Homo sapiens: one gene and its partners. The protein of the gene in region 3 purifies or fractionates together with the protein of the main gene of each other region. This does not show direct contact. Each region holds a gene or a part of one and is shown on either strand. Other genes may lie near its edges.

Region 1 (3,657 bases), on a different chromosome or scaffold from region 3:
AAATTCAGGCCAACCAGGAAGCCTTCACAAAGGCTGGCACTGACCTTCCCTTTGTCAGTTTGGGGTCAGTTCTATCTGGGCGAAGGTCTCAGACTGATCGTAGTCCGACATAGAGACCGGAAACGAGCCTCAAACAGTCTGAAGGGAGCAAACGGCATTCTTGCAGATGCTTACTACTTCAGTGAAGCTTCGAATGACTCAGAGAGGTCATCACGCCCAGTCATCTTCAAATTTTTCTGCACATTAGACTGCACTGGGGAGCCTTAAAACAATCCCAGTGCCAGTCCACACCCCTTCCACACCAATTACAACGGACTCTCCAGGACCCGGGCAGCCATAGTGTTTACCACTTACCTCGTGATTCTTATGTACAACCACACTTGAGAACTGGGGATCTAGTCCTGGGCTTCTCATACTTGCCATGTGAAAGCATCACCTGGGGATCCTGCTGCAATGCACATTCTGATTCAGTAGGTCTGGGGTGCCGCCCAAGATTTTGTATTTCTAACAAGCTCCCAGGGGATGCCGGTCCACGGACCACTCTCTGAGGGGTAAGGCTCCTAATTCAACTGACTAACTCAACTCAGGTTAACTACCTGGATGCTTTTTCAGAGGGTGGTAGGAAGCCTGGGATTACCCAACCACTGATCAAGGGGTAAAGAGCAATCTGCTCTGTATGAGAGAAACTCAGGTTCCGAGGAGCATTCTTGCCTTTTGGGCTGCAGTCATCACTTGCTGTTCATAGATGTCAAGGTTCTGGTTCATGAGCTCCAAGGCCTCTTGGCGGCTGATGAGAGCCAGAGGGTTCAGACTCAGGATGGATGGATGCTCATACACGGCAGCCACATAATATTCAGCCTCGTGATGGTCAGCCACGCTCTCCTCCCCGGTGTGGGCTCCCAGGGCAACCACGTAACAGCCGCAGAGGAAAAGAGCAAGCTTACTTCTGGCTCCAGACATAATGCAGACCACAAATCTGGAATGTAATGGGGCAAGGGGAAAACAGCTGAATAAAGAATCCTGCCAAGAATTTAACGTTTGCAGCTGTGATTTATTAATCCCAGCAATTAAACTCACTCGCAGTGATACTGCGGCTCAAAGAGTTTGTTTCATGTTCCTAATAAAAGAGTATGTGTTTCTCTCCAAACACGTAGCAAGCCACATTTAAAATGGCTCACTGTGTTAATAGTCTGGTTTTAGAACATTTCCAAAACAGACTCAACGTTTGCTATGATTTTCTTACCCAGTGTTCAGCAAGACTGTAGTGCGTCACTACCCACTTTTCTAGCTGTGCACTTAGATTTTAAGCAGTAGTAACTATCCAGATTATTTGACATAATTCTGTGATATATTTCACACTCTACCCTCTGCCCTCTATCCATACTACAGGTCAGCCATCCGTAATGTCTGTGATTGTCATGACCCTAATAACACAGCTTGGCTTTCCTGGCCATCAAAACCTAATGAATTACAATTCTCCCTGCATTTCTTTGGTTAGTAATAAATACTATGGATAACTCTCCCTTTATTCAGCACAAAATTATTTATTTGGTGCCAAGAAACTGCTGACTTCTACATAAATGCCAATAGCTACTTTCTTTTATAGACAAGCAAAGTATCCCAATAAAAGCATGTTATTTTTTCTCCTTGAACTTGAGAATCGCCATTGCACATTATCACTTTCTTAACCCCATCTCTGTGACTCCAAAACTCTTGCTCAAAAGCCTACTCATTTGGAAATAAAATCCTTTTTGCAGTGATAAAATGCAATTTTCTAGAAAATAAACTACAAATTTCCAGAGAGTAAACTCAGCTTCATAGCTTCTACCAGAAAAGACTAGAAATAAATGATACTTCTGTGTGTCTCCTCCTTCCTCCCAGAATAGGAATGTTTCTTTCTAAACAGTGTGCATTACTGTTTTAGAGTAAATAGTCCAATTCTGCCTTTAAAAATCAGCCTGGCCTCCCAGCTAAAGCGTCCTCTCAGGCAGAGATTTACTGGGTAGTGTGCCAAGGCCAGGCCACCTGCCCATGGAGATGTCCTGGGGCTGAACAACTGCCCAGGAATCCGGATTAAAAGTCAAGATAACAAAGACAAATCAAAGAATCATATTGCTGCCCTTTAAAAAGAAAATGACACCCTGTCCAAGTCTCAACTCATAACTCCTGTGTTTGCATTTTAAAACCAAACTCCCCAGGCTACAAATTTCTTTATTTTTTATCAAAAGTTCCAGAAACAAACCATAGCTCTTTTCGTCAACAGACTAAGAACTAGAAATGCTCATCTTGGCAAAATTAAATATTCCTCAGAATGAGAAGTATTCTCCCACCCCAACCCGGTTCCATCTCAAACTGTTATTTCTTTCCCCAGGGAAATGTACCATCCAAACACCAAACCCCAGGATTTGTTGCCATTCATCTGGGACACTGTAAACAATGTTTTAAGATAAGAACAAGGAGTCTTTGAGTGAGCAGTCATGAGTTTTTGAGTAGAAACAAAAGTATAATTGATAAGCTTTCTTATCTGAATTTTGCCTCTAAAGACAAGCAAGGAATAATTTAAAATGTCTCAGAAACCCATTTTTCCATTCCATCTCTGGTTTCACAATGATAACAGAGAGTGATTTTGGGGGCAAACTTTCATCTTCAAAGTCATACTGACAATATTTCTGAAGTATAACGCAAAGGCCTCACTAAGAGGTATGGAAACTGAGGCCAGGAGAGGAGGGTATGAACCAGTCCCCAGTGGGGGCAAGTGAGGAGTGCCTGGGGCCAAGAGTGGCATTCACATTACATCTCTTTCTCAACTGAGAGCTGGGTACCACCGATGTCGGGGTACAGAACATTTGTTTATGTCTAAAGGACTTGCAATCCAGCAAAACAAGGAAACCGCAAAATCCGCAAGGTATCACATTTCTTTCTATCTGGAGAAGATAAAATTTATTTTACAAAAGGAGCCCGGTAGGAGAGCTCTAAGTGGCAATCATTTGTGTGTGAACAAAGGTAGGTCGATAATAAGAGGTTATGCAGATTCAACCAGGTATTCATGCTTGAAAGAACCAAGCTTAATGAGGTAGAAGAGAATGAGTAATTACAATAAAAATAGGTCTAGTCAGCCGGCCCTCAGTATCCATTGTTTCTGCATCCATGGATTCCACCAACCTTGGATTGAAATTACTGGGGTGGGAGGGGGAGGAGGGAGCCCAATAAAAATAATAGCACAACAATAAAAAATAATAGCAATTTAAAAAATACAGTATAACAATTATTTATATAGCATTTAGTTTGTATTAGGTAGTGTAAGGGATCTAGAGATGATTTAAAGTGTACAGGAGGAAGTGTTTAGGTTACATGTAAATTCTACACCATTTGATATAAGGGACTTGAGCATCTGAGGGTTTCGGTATCCACGGGGTCCTGGAACCAGTCCCAACAGATACTGAGGGACAACTGTACATCAATTTGCCCTTCCCAAAGAAACATTTTACCCAAATTAGCAAATGCTGCTTTTCTCTCTTTGGCATCACACATACCTTCTCAGGAAAAAGTAAATAGGGCCTGTGGCAAGGACTCTGAAGGGTTCAGCAGGCAGCAGCGGGAGGTGCTCAGTTGTAAAGTGGCAGGACTAGAGGTAGGGCTGGAGGGGCCCAGGCATCC
Region 2 (3,657 bases), on a different chromosome or scaffold from region 3:
ATAACACATAGCAAAGTTAAATATAGAAGATGGTCTAGCCACTTTTTTTCACATATAGGCAGAACAACAGAAGAAGACAGGATGTCTTGTTCTGGTCCACCACTAATGGTGAATTACCTCTAGCAAATCTCTTCATCTCTCTCTCTCATCTTTTCCATTAAAAGGGGAAAGAGTATGGAATGATACATGGCCTGCCTATTTCATTGGTCTATTATAAGTATCAGACATATGAATACTTATGAAAATATATGGAAAAGTTATGAAGTACTCTACACAATAAATAATTCTCTTTTATTAGCACGGATAACTGACTTGTCTAAATATCTACTGTAGCTCCCCAAAAGTGATAATATATTTTAGAGCAAATGATTCCTAAAATATATTAAAGAATAAACAGGGCAGGATATGGAATGACAAATACAATAAAAATGGCTTTTTCCTAATTTTTGATAGAAAAATATTTAAAAAATAAACTTCTCCAGCAGTAACTACAGTATATAAAGTGCAGATTCAAGGATATTATGGTGAATATCTACAGTTATCTAGACTCTAAGATACTTCAGATATTCCTCAGCTATTTCAATACCACAAGGATAATCCAGGATGACTTATCAATATCACACATGTCAATAGCAGGTTGTGATGTAAATGAGCAAATTCTTTCCAACCATCTCAGTTCAGTTTTATTATAGCATTTATTAAACCAAAATAAAAACATGGTGAAGAATGATTTGTCACACCATTTATTAGAGTTGATGGAGTGTAGACAGTCTTTTCAATAAGGCTTTAACACACTGTTATGCACCATAGTGCATTAGTAATGAAAAGAAATGCATGAGACTTACATCAGCCTTTCCCCCAAGTCATTCTGACATTAAATTCAAAATCAATTTTACCCTATATGGCAAGAGTTCAGAAATAAATGTTAATTTCTTTGCTGTTCACCAAAACTTAAGTTTATAATTCAAAGTAACAACAGAAATCCTTCCTATTCTACTTAATTTAATAATCATACTTTTTTTGGAGAAGGGTTCAAAGTGGGAAGCAAATGCAACCAGAAGTTAAAAAATTGTGTTTCAGTTTGTATCTGACAAAAGGATGGGATCTAATTTTCTCTCTGATTAAAAGAACACAAAGAACAGCCACAGAATGTAAATCGTGTGTTGAGTGTTTGAATTTCTCTTCCAATACCTGAGTATCTGAATAGAACTAATTCACTCTGGAAAAGGTATTAAATAATTGAGCATCATTGTGCCCGAATGAGGGCTAATTGTCAAACGTTGAAGAAAAATAAACATATTCTACAATGATAGGGTCAACTCACTCACTCAGGAACTTCAATCAAGCATTTTACATTCAAATGACAGAAACCAAGTATGTAAAGAATGACCTACCGCCAACAAGGAATCCTGATAGACACAAGCACCTGTGGGGAAAAACAAAACAAGAATTAAAAGGGATGCATAATAAACCAATAGGCACTGCCCCAGCAAGCTTGCTGCTAAAACTGCATCTATATGCATCATAACCAGGAAAATGAGCTTCTTCCAAAATCTTAAAAGCTTCAGCATTCTTCCCCTGGGGAAATAACCCCATACACCAAAACAACATTCCTTGGACACACATGAGGAAAAGCATCATTAAAACTTATGACTTGAATTTTAAGATAAATGTGTTTATAACGACATGCTATAAATACAGTAAATATTTTTCTTGGTGATAAGTCAGCAAAGCCTCCATAATCCAGTCCCATTTACTTATCCAGGCTTCCCTGCCACTGTTTGCTTACACTAAGCCTCCAGTCCAACCCAAGAGGCCAACTTAGAATCCTGTAATATATTTACATGTCTCAATGCCTTTGCTCATTTTCATTTTCTACAGGAGATGTACTTTGTCTAGTCAAGCTCTTTGAACTTGATCCCATCTCCTTTGTGAAACTTCTGCCCACCAGATTATGCTCCTCTGAGCTCCTAGCATTTTGTGCCTACATCCTCCATTTGTGAATTTATTCTTGTGTATTTCCTTTCTAAGGATGTTGAAATGTTGTATTTACCCCACTACATTATATATATGTGTGTGTGTACTACATATAGAGAGAATATATACACTATATATACCATTACATATATACTATTACATATATAGTATATACATATATATACACATGTATACCCACTATATACTATATACCATATATAGTACATATATAGTATATACACATATATACACATATATATACATATATACCCACTATATACTATATATAGTATATATATAATATATAGTATAAATAGCATATGTAGTATTTAGTGTGTGTGTGTGTATGTATATATATATATATATATATATATACACTATAAAACTGAAATCTTAACTTAAAAAAAATATAGACACATTCCCAACCAATTTTTGAGCTGCACAACAGGTCTTGATTTAACTTAGAAAGAGATGGGCAGTGTGCTGTCACCTACTCTCTCAGAAACTGAGTCTGCAAAACACATTTGAACAGTATATACACACCAAGGTGAAGCATATCTTAACAATGCTCCACACAGTTGGTTTCTAAAGAGAGAAGGACATTATTTTACCACAGTGCTTACCTCTAATGGATCATTTATGAAGTCCCAATAATATTAACTTCTCAGGAAAGAATTGGTCTACCTTCTCCTCCAGTAATGGAATTAAGAACAATCTTTAAAAAAACTGAGATGACTATTTACACTTAGGTTTGAATCAAAGATCTCTGTGGGCAAATTTATTGAAATAATTTTTATGTCCCTGATATTCTTTTTTTTTTTCTTGGTATACAACAATTTTATTGGTGTTTTAATATAATTCACCCAGAATATGAAGGCATCACATTAGCTAAGTACAAGGCATATGTATAAGCAAAAATTATAAATTTATGACACCCTTGTGCCTTTCTCCTAATGACATTTCCAACTTTTAATGGTTTGTATTTCTTCCTCTGCAGACATAGGATAATTAATATAAATATGTCATTTTTGAGTTTATATTTTACACAAACTTATTATTTTACTTTAAAATAGTTTCTAGCCATGGCATTAATATTTATTAAAATTTCTGTACATATGAAAAAAGGAATTTATTTCTATACATATGAAAGAAAGGAATAGGGAGTGTCTATAAATGAATGATTTTATAGACACTCCCTATTTTTTTATTTTATTTATTTATTTATTTTTATTATTATTCTTTAAGTTCTAATAAGAATAACTTGAGATAAAACCTTGAAGGAAAATTCTTCTTAATTGACTACTTTTTCCTTAAGAAATCTTGTTCCAAGACTTAGTAGTTCAGTCTATGGTATGTTATAAGAAAGGAAATATATATATGTGTACATATGTATGTGTGTGATGTGTGTACTAAAATAATTCTATATATCTCAAATAAATACATATGAACACAATTCACTTTCTAAATTACTTATATGGACATATTTAATTATTTCTGGTGTTTAGAAAATTTAGAATAAAGATCATCATCACTTAGGTACAATTTAACAAAATTTAAACTTTAGATTAAACAAAACTTAACTTTTAGAAAAAACACAAACAAAATTTAATCTTTAAAATAAGACTATCCTCAAATAATTTTATTGCTCTCCACAGCATTACCTTCCAAAGTCAATTTCTT
Region 3 (3,757 bases):
TCAAAGTCTTTATCATGAAAAACAGACATTCTGTTAAAATAATAAACCACCAAAGAACCATTCAAAAGAGGTCAGTGGGAAAGTAAGATCTGATCTGATGTTGTTAAAAGGATTTACAAAGAAAATACACTTCTACTTGCCACTAGCAAATCTGAGATTTATACAAAGATTAATTTAAAATAGCATGGTTGTTAATTTACCATGAGTGTTCAGTACAACTATTAGCAAGTCAGCAAAGAGGAGGAAAAAAATCCAAGGTAACAACTTAGTTTGTATTTTGATAGAATTCATGAGGATGGCATCTCAGAAAATGGTGTCAACAAAGGATGGACATCAGAATCACCTTTGAACTTTGAAGACACATGGATACCCGTCTCTCTGCTGCTACAGACTCTCTAGGGATGGGCTCTGGGGAAGGCTGCTGGCATGCAGCTGGACCCTGTCAACCTTTTGTCTAACTTCAATGAACTCCTCTTCTCACTTGCCTGTGATACAACACTTGGTGGGATAGCTATAGTGCAGTCGAAAGAATCAATTGGATAGGTCAAAACTAACAAGATGAAATTAGATGGATAAATATAAAACCTGGCACTTAGATTTTTAATGTGTGGAACAGGGAATGTATGGCTCAAGAGCAGTTTATGTTTAAAAACAAGACAAAAGAAAATTGTATGGTATTTTGTTCCCTGCGTTCTCTCTGAGCCAAGATAAAGCAAAGGCAATGTTATGTTATATTCAAATAACAGTGCCTAAACCTTAAAAGATAATAGCCTGACTTGAAATGATAAGATATGAGGTAAAGGCACTGAGCATAGTTTTCTCTGGAAACAGGAAAATTAGGAAGTATATGTTAACTGCTTTCAACTATTTTGAGAACTTCAATAAGTAAGAGATATTAGTCTTATCCTGTGTTTCCCCCAAATAACAGAATAAAGACTGACGGTTAGAAAGTTACATGTGATCACACTTAAGCTTAGCCTAAAGAAGTTTTTGGTGATTGGAATCATTCAATAATGCAAAGTAATGCAAACCAATCCTATAAGGATTTATGGAGAGGTTCTTTGCTAATAAAACGTAAAGACTTACCCTCAGGGAACATAAAGTCAAACAGGAAAAAATAGGGAGGTGAGTATAAACATATAGAAAGATACATAAAAGGTAATAACATATTTACAAAAATGTAATATAAACAGGACTCTACTGGAGCAAAGAGGCAGAACCTGGCTGTCATAGCTGGCAGTGAGTTGGGGTCATTGAAGTAGTTAAATAGAATCGGGAAGCTACAGAAGGGATCCCTGCACCCTGTGAGAGGTTAAACCAGATGACCTTCATGGTCCTTTGCAAGGCCCAGTTTTGTGATTACATTGTAGGACATGACAAACAAACATATTGTTTGAAATATGTTTTCTCTGTCAATATATTACCAAAGATTTTCTACTCCCCTAAGTCAAAATTCTAATGGAAAAATGTAAAATGGTATGTGTTTCCAACCGTAGTTGTTCTGCCACCGCCCACTTCCCTGCATCCTATGAAGATGGTGGTAACAGATTCCAACCACAGACCCTCACTCCACCCCTGTTCCCTAGAAGCTAGTTCTCAGAGTCGGTGAGGCGATGCCCGCACCCGGTCAGCACCTCGGACAGCTCACTGGCCCCGGGAGGTAGCGGCTTCCGGTACACTCTGGAACCCTGCTTCTCTAAAACCCAATGGAAAGGCTTGGGAAAGATTCCTTTTTCCAGTGTGCGCTCCTCCCGCGCCCTTCTCGAACTGCCCATCAATTTCCACTCTCTGGGGCTGTAAGCTCAGTTTTACCAACTCTGTCCTCGTCTCTTCAGAATCCAGGGAGCAGAAATGGCTACAAGTGGGATCTTCCCCTAACTCACACCAGGAAGTGCCTTTCCCTTCAGTTTTAGCGACACATGTTCAGGACATCCCTAGGGCAGGAGCAGCTTAAAGACAGTCCCACAGGGAAAAGTCTCCTTTAGTAAAAGGCTGCAGCATCTCGCTCTCTTGATCCTCTCCTAAAGGTTCCAACAAATTGCAGCCAGAAATCAAGAAGGTCTGGCGGGGGAGAATAAAGCTTGACTCCCTCCAGAGCTGCCCTGGGGGATCAAGGTCTGTCTCAGACATCCTCAGAGTTTAGGCCAGATGGAGTCTGAGGAAGCTCCCCTTACCTGAGGAGGGAATCTGTAGCATGCAGAAGCAGTAGATGGCCAAGATGAGAGGGAACTGGGGACGAAGATGTTTCATTGTGAGAGTCTGGTTTCTCCTTGCTGGCCACAGACAGGTGCTGCTAGGACAGGAGCCGCGCATTTCCCCAAGGTCCACAGGCAGAGGCAACCCTCTGTCCTGCATCTGATCAGCCCAGCGAAGAAAGTGCCTTTATTTGCAGCGCCCCGGAACCCACTGGCTGATCACCAATCAGCTTTGCACAGGAGGACCCCGGCTTTCTCATAAATGTCATGCTGAGCCCTTATTTGTAGAATAATATCTTTCTGGAGTAGGCATTGTAGAGAGCCATGTTTTACAACCCAGCAATGAAAATAAAAGGTGGAGAGTCCTGATTGTTATTCTATAATGATCTGAGAAATATTTCTGAATCAAGAATGGCTTTTTCTCTTTTTAATAAAAGAGATAAAATAAAAAAAGGACACAAATCTCTAAATTATTGCTTGATAAAGTCTTGTTTCCTACGAAGCTGTTTATTTTCCACCTCTAACAAAGGATGTTGTGTTATCTTGGTGCATTTAAGAAGGACAAAATTTGGAGTCTTCTGTATAATATTTGTAAAAATCTAAAGTTCAATTGGGGCTCTGTTTGTTTTTTAGATCATGGCTGGAAATTAGCCTCTTTAAGGTCTTTCCAGATTCATTTTAAGGAACAAGTTAAATATTTCAAATTGTCAGTATTCAGGAAAACATGACAATGTTTAATAATAATAAATAACTTCATCTACTGAGCTTCTACATGTTGGGATCTGTTTTAGGCATTTCACATAGGTTATTTCATGTAATTCTCACAGAAAATCTATTAGGAATGTGTTATTACCCTAATTTTATGAATGAGGAAACAGAGGCTAGGAAAGATGAAGAAACTTGTCCAAGGTCATCCAGCTATCAAGGATCAGAGAAGAAATTTGGACTCAAAGGTACCTGAGCCCAGTCATTTCTGTAAGAATATGGAATTTTAATTGATAAGTAATTTTTTAAACATGCTTCCTTGGGATTAGACATCAGATAGAAAGAAGAAGAAAGACTGAAGTCTTCTATTTCTTGCAAAAAGGGCAACATACATAGTATACGTGAAACAAATATCTTTTGTTTTTTTCATTATGCATATCTTTATTTTTTTTTTCTTTTTGAGACAGAGTCTCACTCTGTCACTCAGACTAGATTGCAGTGGCGCGATCTTGGCTCACTGCAACCTCTGCCTCCTGAGTTCAAGCGATTCTCCTGCCTCAGCCTCCTGAGTAGCGGGGATTACAGGCGCCCACCACCACGCCCAGCTAATTTTTGTATTTTTAGTAGAGACCAGTTTTCACCATGCTGGTCAGGCTGGTCTCAAACTCCTGACCTCGTGATCTGCCCACCTCAGCCTCCCAAAGTGCTGGGATTACAGGCGTGAGCCACTGCGCCTGGCCGCATGTCTTTAATTTTTGCTCTTTTAGAGATTAGGTGGTTACTAATAACTGCTGGATGTTTACACATGGCTCAAACATGTTAATACTTTACCTAAGTCATAATATATAATTGTTTTA

What was found.
Region 1: the proteins of NMS (region 3) and BTD purify together in Homo sapiens (affinity purification with mass spectrometry; one large-scale study listed by BioGRID and IntAct). This does not show direct contact.
Region 2: the proteins of NMS (region 3) and FRAS1 purify together in Homo sapiens (affinity purification with mass spectrometry; one large-scale study listed by BioGRID and IntAct). This does not show direct contact.

The regions. Positions count from the first base shown.
Region 1 is NC_000003.12:15,632,743-15,636,399, reverse strand, and holds part of BTD (biotinidase isoform 1 precursor), read right to left. Parts: exon of another isoform or gene 3,534-3,657; intron 977-3,533; 5' UTR 961-976; coding exon 712-960; intron 1-711. UniProt on the Homo sapiens protein: Catalytic release of biotin from biocytin, the product of biotin-dependent carboxylases degradation.
Region 2 is NC_000004.12:78,063,754-78,067,410, reverse strand, and holds part of FRAS1 (extracellular matrix organizing protein FRAS1 isoform 1 precursor), read right to left. Parts: intron 1,427-3,657; coding exon 1,395-1,426; intron 1-1,394. UniProt on the Homo sapiens protein: Involved in extracellular matrix organization. Required for the regulation of epidermal-basement membrane adhesion responsible for proper organogenesis during embryonic development. Involved in brain organization and function.
Region 3 is NC_000002.12:100,468,982-100,472,738, reverse strand, and holds the start of NMS (neuromedin-S preproprotein), read right to left. Parts: upstream 2,258-3,757; 5' UTR 2,251-2,257; coding exon 2,175-2,250; intron 1-2,174. UniProt on the Homo sapiens protein: Implicated in the regulation of circadian rhythms through autocrine and/or paracrine actions.